Homo sapiens: one gene and its partner. The protein of the gene in region 1 interacts with the protein of each later gene in a pairwise test. Each region holds a gene or a part of one and is shown in the gene's direction. Other genes may lie near its edges. The genes, in order: GCH1 and GIT2.

The links.
Region 2: the proteins of GCH1 (region 1) and GIT2 interact in a two-hybrid assay, tested with the Homo sapiens proteins (one large-scale study listed by BioGRID and IntAct).

Annotation. Positions count from the first base shown.
Region 1 is NC_000014.9:54,896,121-54,899,938, reverse strand, and holds part of GCH1 (GTP cyclohydrolase 1), read left to right. Parts: intron 1-3,818. UniProt on the Homo sapiens protein: Positively regulates nitric oxide synthesis in umbilical vein endothelial cells (HUVECs). May be involved in dopamine synthesis. May modify pain sensitivity and persistence.
Region 2 is NC_000012.12:109,944,108-109,947,925, reverse strand, and holds part of GIT2 (ARF GTPase-activating protein GIT2), read left to right. Parts: exon of another isoform or gene 1-421; coding exon 422-670; intron 671-2,576; coding exon 2,577-2,666; intron 2,667-3,818. UniProt on the Homo sapiens protein: GTPase-activating protein for ADP ribosylation factor family members, including ARF1.

The DNA of each region.
Region 1 (3,818 bases):
GAGCCGAGATCGCACCATTACACTCCAGCCTGGGCAACAAGAACTAAACTCCATTTCAAAAAAAAAAAAAGTCCATGGATGTAGAGACACTGCAAGATTAGTAGTTGTCAGGGACTGGCGAGAAGAGGGGGATGGGTAGTGATTGTTTAATGAGTATGGAGCTTCCTTTGGAGCTTCCTTTTGGAGTCATGAAAATGTTCTGGAACTAGAGAGTGGTGATAGTTGCACAATATTGTGAATGCCACTGGATTGTAACTTCAAGATGGCTAAAAATGACCAATTTTATATATATTTTACCACAATATAAAGACAGGTTTTGTGGCGTGCCTGCAGTCCCAGCTACTAGGGAGGCTGAGGCAGGAGGATAGTTGTTGCTCAGGAGAACAGCCTGGGCAACGTGGGGAGACCCTGTTTCAGAAAAGAAAAGTCCATGGAGCGGACCATTTAAGATTATTATTATTATGTTTATTTTCATGTTTTTGAGACAGGGTTTGGCTCTGCTGCCTAGGCTGGAGTGCAGTGGCGCAATCTCGGCTCACTGCAGTCTCACTCTGCTGGACTCAAGTGATCCCACCTCAGCCTCCTGAATAGCTGGAACTACAGGCTTGTGCCACCATGCCCTGCTAATTTTTGTATTTTTGATAGAGACGGGTTTTTGCCATGTTGCCCGGGCTGGTCTTGAACTCCTGAGCTCAAGGGATCTGCCTGCCTTGGCTTCCCAGAGTGCTAGGATTACAGGTGTGAGCCACCATACCCAGCCCATTTAAGATTATTATAAGCCATTAATTGAATATAATCATGCATTACATTATGATGTTTCCTTCAATGATGGACCACATGTATGAAGGTGGTTTATAAGATTACAATGGAGCTGAAAAATTCACATTGTCTGGTGATGTCTTGGTGATCCTGACCTGTGTAGGCCTAGAGTAATGTGTTTGTTTGTGTCTTAGTTTTTTCCTCTCGTCTCCCCCATGTCTTAGTTTTTAACAAAATTTAAAAATTAAGAAAATTGGGCCAGGCATGGTGGCTCACACCTGTAATCCCAGCACTTTGGGAGGCCAAGGTGGGCGGATTACTTGAGGTTAGGAGTTAGAAAGAGACCAGCCTGGCCAACATGTTGAAACCCCATCTCTACTAAACATGTAAAAATTAGCCAGATGTGGTGGCGCATACCTGTAGTCACAGCTACTTGGAAGGCTGAGGCAGGAGAATCACTTGAACCCAGAAGGTGGAGGTTGCAGTGAGCCGAGATTGCACCAATGCACTGCAGCCTGGTTGACAGAGTGAGACTCCGTCTCAACAGTAAATAAATAAATAAAAATAAAAATTAAAATTAAAAATAGAAAAAGGTATAGAACAAGGATATAAAATATTTTTGCACAGCTGTACAATGTGTTTTTGTTTTAAGCTGTGTTATTACAAAAGAGTCAAAGTTTTAAATACATTAAGCTGAAATTATTGAAGAAAAAATATGTTTAGTGTAGCCCAAGTGTACAGTGTTTATAAAGTTTACAGTAGTGTACAGTAATGTCCTAGGCCTTCACATTCACTTACCATGCATTCACTGACTCACCCAGAGCAACTTCCAATCCTGCAAGCTCCTTTCATGGTAAGTGCCCTACACAGACATACCATCTTAAGTCTTTTCTACTATATTTTTACTGTACCTTTTCTATGTTTAGATGTCTTTCTAAAATTATTATTATTTGTATTTTAAATATAGAGGCAGGGTCTCACTGTTTTGCCCAGGCTGGTCTCGAACTCCTGGGCTCAAGTGATCCTCTCCTCTTGGTCTCCCAAAGTGCTGGGATTACAGGCATGAGCTATCCCACCTGGCCTACATATCTTTAAATACACAAATACCATTGTGTTACAGTTGCCTGCAGCATTCATTACAGTAACATGCCATACAGGTTTGTAGCCTAGGAATAATAGGCTCTACCGTGTAGCCTAGGTGTGTAATAGGCTATCTCATCTAGGTTTGTGTTAGCACTCTCTTCCTTCAGTGTTTGCGATATGAAACTGCATTTCTCAGGTGTTTCTCAGAATGTATCCCCATTGTTAAGCAATGCATGACCGTACTTTTTAATGGGTTAAAAGCTTTACGTTGGATGGTCTTGGTTCATCTTCCAGTTTTCAAGTAAACATTTCTCTTATCCCCATGACAAGGCAACTGAGGCAGAGAGGTTGACACAAGTAGTAGAGCTGGTATTTGAATCCAGAGAGTCTGACTGCAGAATTCTTAGCCACTTCCTTATACTGCTACAGAGAGAACTGAATCAGTGTACCCTATCTGTATATTTCAAACTGTGAATTGGGTCAACAGCATTAAAAAAAAAAGTGGAGTAGCCGGGCGCGGTGGCTCACGCCTGTAATCCCAGCACTTTGGGAGGCCGAGGCGGGTGGATCACCTGAGGTTGGGAGTTCGAGACCAACCTGACTAACATGGAGAAACCCCTTCTCTACTAAAAATACAAAAATTAGCCAGGTGTGGTGGTGCATGCCTGTAATCCCAGCTACTTGGGAGGCTGAAGCAGGAGAATTGCTTGAACCCAGGAGGCGGAAATTGCAGTGAGCCAAGATTGCACCATTGCACTCCAGCCTGGGCAACAAGAGCGAAACTCAGTCTCAGAAAAAAAAAGTGAGTAGAGGTTGGGCACGGGGGCTCAAGTCTGTAATCCCAGCACTTTGGGAGGCTGAGGTGGGCAAATAACGAGGTCAAGAGATCAAGAACCCCGTCTCTACTAAAAATACAAAAATTAGCTGGGTGTGGTGGTGCGTGCCTGTAGTCCCAGCTACTTGGGAGGCTGAGGCAGGAGAATCACTTGAACCCGGGAGGCGGAGGTTGCAGTGAGCCGAGATTGTGCCACTGCACTCCAGCCTGGCGACAGAGCAAGACTCCATCTCAAAAAAAAAAAAAAAAAACAAAAAGTGGAGTAGAATGGATAAGATCAGTCTATCACATATAGTAAGGACAAGTGTTTTGAGAAACTTCTTCTTTTGTTTTTTTTTTTTTTGAGATGAAGTCTCACTCTGTAGCCCAGGCTGGAGTGCAGTGGCGCGATCTGGGCTCACTGCAAGCTCGGTCTCCCGGTTCACACCATTCTCCTGCCTCAGCCTCCTGAGTAGCTGGGATTACAGGCGCCCGCTACCACACCCGGCTAATTTTTTTTTTTTGTATTTTTTTAGTAGAGATGGGGTTTCACCGTGTTAGCCAGGATGGTCTTGATCTCCTGACTTTGTGATCCGCCCGCCTCGGCCTCCCAAAGTGCTGGGATTACAGGCGTGAGCCACCGCTCCCGGCCGAGAAACTTCTATGTAGGTTTTATAGGCATAATTGTGTGTGTGTGCACTGGCTCCAGATGTAAAATGCATTTCTTACTGTAGGTTGTAGTCAAAAGTTTGAAAGCCTGTATCTAGGGGATCTGTTTAAGGATTTAATATTTCTTTTTTTTTTTTAAAGAGATATATAATTAAAGAGAAGACAGAGTAGTGAGAACAAGGATGATGCTGAACTTAAAGGAATGAACCTGAAATGTGGTGGGGTCTTGGACCAACCTGGATGGCAGGGAGAAGGAAGGATACTGGTGGGAGATAGGAGTGAGTGGGAACCCACATCTTTAGGTCCATAAACGCTTCTGCACAATCCCTTTTATTTCTTTAGAGAGCATGAGTCAAGTGGCCACTATATATTGTTTTTGGATAAGAACATACTTCTCTGAAGGTCACTTTTCTGTGCTTGTAAACAGGATACAGGACTTTATATCTTTTATATATCTGTATTCTATATATTAACTCCTGGTTAGTAATGTTGA
Region 2 (3,818 bases), on another chromosome or scaffold:
TACAAATTGCTCAGGGCTCATTTGAAAAGCAAGTTACCTAAATGATGTTTTAATGATCTCGAACTCTTGCTTGAAACAGCCTTAGTAATAATCCAGTGTACAGCTTGCCTGCAAACATTTCCCAGCCCCACCATGACAAATTTTAAAGTGGTTAGACATTTTGTTTTGAGGAAGTCCAAACCACAACTTTTCCACATTCAGAAATGAAGCTATTTAATTTGCTTACGTGATGAAGGGAGTTGATTGTGTTTCACCCAATCCAGAAGAAAGGGTCCTTGTTTGTATTGGCTTTTTACTTTCAGCCCGGCTAGCTGTTACTGTCCTTATTGTTTAAAACTGGTAGTTGTATTCATTTACTTGGTGTTTGCTTTTTCTGCTTGCTGTAAAAAAACACAGTCCCACTGCCAAACATTTCTTTCAGCTTCAAACACTCCAGAGTGAAAATTCGAACCTCAGGAAACAGGCCACAACCAATGTATATCAGGTGCAAACTGGTTCTGAGTACACAGACACTTCCAACCACTCTTCCTTAAAGAGACGTCCGTCTGCCCGGGGCAGTAGGCCCATGTCCATGTACGAGACCGGATCAGGTCAGAAACCATATCTCCCAATGGGAGAAGCGAGCCGCCCCGAAGAGAGCAGGATGAGACTCCAGCCCTTCCCCGCGCACGTAAGTAACACCACTGGCGCTTCTGCTGTTCACTCTATGCAGCCTGTCTACTCTGTTCCCTCTTCTGAACCTACAGGTCCCCACAGCTCTGCTTTGCCAAATTGGACTAAGAGAGTTACCATTGTGTTTGCTGTATTAACATGTCCACAGATGCTTGCGATATTCCCACAAGCACACAGGGCCATGGGCTGATGGTTTCCTAACCAAGTTGGGGATTCTGGCTCTTGCCCGAACTGCTGCTTTTTTCTCCCCCACATCCATGATTATTTCTCAACCAGCCAGTGTTGGAACTTTTTTTGGTAAAGCTTCCTTCCTTCTCTACTTCCAAAAACAAAAATAAATCATAAAGTTCACTCTCAGAAGGAAGTGTTGCCTTCTTGGAGCTAGACAGGGATGTGCCCCTTTAAGTACTGGAGCCCTTAGAATCCAAGACGTCTTTTCAGCTCCTCCTCAAGCAGGTGGCCTTGAGTCTGTGGCCCAGGTACCCAGGCAAGGCTGGAAGGCTCCAGGCTTCCGCAGCCTCTCCATGTGTGCTCAGTGTGCCTGCTAGGTTCGCTTCTGCATCCTGCTCCTCCCACCGTGGTGGGGGAAGTGTGGCTTTGTTGTCTCAGAAAAGGAAATGTAATACTCTACATCAGTCTTAGAAGCGCTGAATTCCAGAGATTGTGTTCTGCAGCAGGGTTCTTACAATCTTATTTTGCATTGGGATACATACTGTGTTATAAGGTTTTCAAATATATTTCTTCTGGATTACTTTATTATAAAAATATGTGTTTTGCCAAGATGTTACATTTAAACTTTTTCATGGGATGCTTTTTCAGAGAGTAGTATTTGTCTTTTTGAGTGTCAAAGTTTATTATTTCTTCAGTCAAATTTTATGGGAGTTTCCAAAAAAATTCTCAAGGTAGATGCAAAGCAAGGACATGGTTTCGTGAATTAAACCCTAGTTTAATTTTGTCAATTTTCAGTGTGGTAAAATTACAATATTGTTTTACTATAATTGGGAGTCTGTTATCTCAGATTCTTTTTAAGATATTTGGGTTTAACATTCTAAGGCAATTGATTTGATACATTTGATGTAATGGGAATGCCACTGAACTAAGTTAAGAATCTTTTTTTTTTGAGATGGAGTCTCGCTCTGTCACCCAGGCTGGAGTGCAGTGGTGTGATCTCAGCTCACTGCAACCTTTACCTCCTGGGTTCAAGCAGTTCTCCTGCCTCAGCCTCCTGAGTAGCTGGGACTACAGGCACATGGTCCTGTGCCTGGCTAATTTTTTTGTTTTAGTAGAGACGGGGTTTCATCATGTTGCCCAGGCTGGTCTCAAACTCCTGAGCTCAGGCAATCCGCCCGCCTCAGCCTCCCAAAGTGCTAGGATTACAGGTGTGAGCTACCATGCCCACCCTAAGTTAAGAATCTTATTTTTGTATAGCTGAAGACAAAATTTAGGAAAAGCAACTTTGTTATTTTTCAGTGTACTTTCTTATTTTAGAAAAAATTAGAATATAAAGATATATCAGGAAGGCACTGTAATTGTACTAAAAATTAGATTGATAGTGTATAGCAACTTAGAATCATTTTTATAGTTTCTCATTTCACATCAGTCCTGATTGAAAAACAAATATGCATTTCATAGTATCCATTAAAAAATTATTGACAAGTTTGACAAATTATGTTAGGTATTTCCCTTATGGAAAAGCAGCCTTATTAAATTCAGAGTAATTTCCAGGAGGTGTTTCACCAAGGGTTTAAGCATCTCTGGGGTCCTGTCACTGGTGGCCACTGAGATTGCAGCACTCACGTCACATAATGTGTGGTGTTCCAGGATTCTTTTACTGAAGCTGGCAAGGTGGTAGGTTTTTGGTTTGTTTTGTATTTTCCCGAGTGTGTTTCTCTTTCCCATTCCAGATCGGGAGGAGTGCACTTGTGACCTCCTCTTCATCTCTGCCTTCCTTCCCCTCCACACTTTCCTGGTCGAGGGACGAAAGCGCCCGAAGGGTTAAGTACATTCTGAATGGTCTGCTCTCTGGAGGAGGGGCCGTGCTCCTGGGCGCTTTGTGCTTGGGCTCTGGCCCTCCTGTCCCTGCTAACTGCCCTTCCGTCCTGCATGAGGCAGCACTTCCTCCTGGTTTCTCACAGTGCATCAGGCTCACACTCGTCCACATGCACGCTCACCCATCGAGGGCGCCTCCCTTTCTCTAACCCCATACTGCTCATGTTCACGTCATATTTAACAAAGTTTGCAAATCACCCTACAGCATTTATTCTGAGCAAACTGTTTTTTTAAACAACGAGAAAATTAGCTGGCTGCTGGTTAGATATTATAATAGGCCAAATTTGTTCAATTTGTTCAGGGCTACAGTTGTCAGATTGAAACTGCTGTATGTGGACTCGCTGAAGTACTAAAATGTCATGCCTTTTTTTTTTTTTTTAACCTGTGACACATTTTATGTCAGCACCACAAGTGCTGACAAACCAAGGTTTACAAGTCCCTGCATCTTGAATCAGAATTGTAACACCTTGTGGCATTGGAGCTATGCAAGCAGCTGTTAACCTAAAGCTGTTCACTTGTACGGGTTGGTTAAACCTCACCTACTGGTGTATAATTTATGGTCTCAATAGCAGTGCATGATTCAGGTAAGCCTCTTTTAGAGTAGTCAGGCAGTAAGTATTAAGCACCTCCTCCATACACAGCGTTTGGGTAAGTCAATGAAAGGGTCCTAAGGACTTAGCTGGCACAGCCCCTGCTCCCAAAGGCACTGTCAATTAAAAAATACTTTCATGCATAAAGAGTGGTACATGACCACAACCTGGGAAAGCCGTGGAAAGGGCATAGGCTTTGAAATCCACGTCCCAGTTCTGGCTCCATCTCTTTTTTAATGGAAGGGTAATGTAAGGTAAGAGGAGGAAGGTGGCTGTGGGTAAGGGACCACCTTTACAGGCAAGGTGGGGTTTGCACTGGGCCTTTGCCATTCCCTCCACACCTAGGAATTATGGAGAGCCTTTCTTTCCTAGTTCCAGTGGCATATGGATTACCAAGGCCCTTTCAGGATTCGTTTTTTTATTTTTTATTTTTTAGAGACAGAGTCTCATGTTGCCCAGTCTGTAGTACAATAGCTATTTACAGGCATGGTCATAGCGTACTGCAGC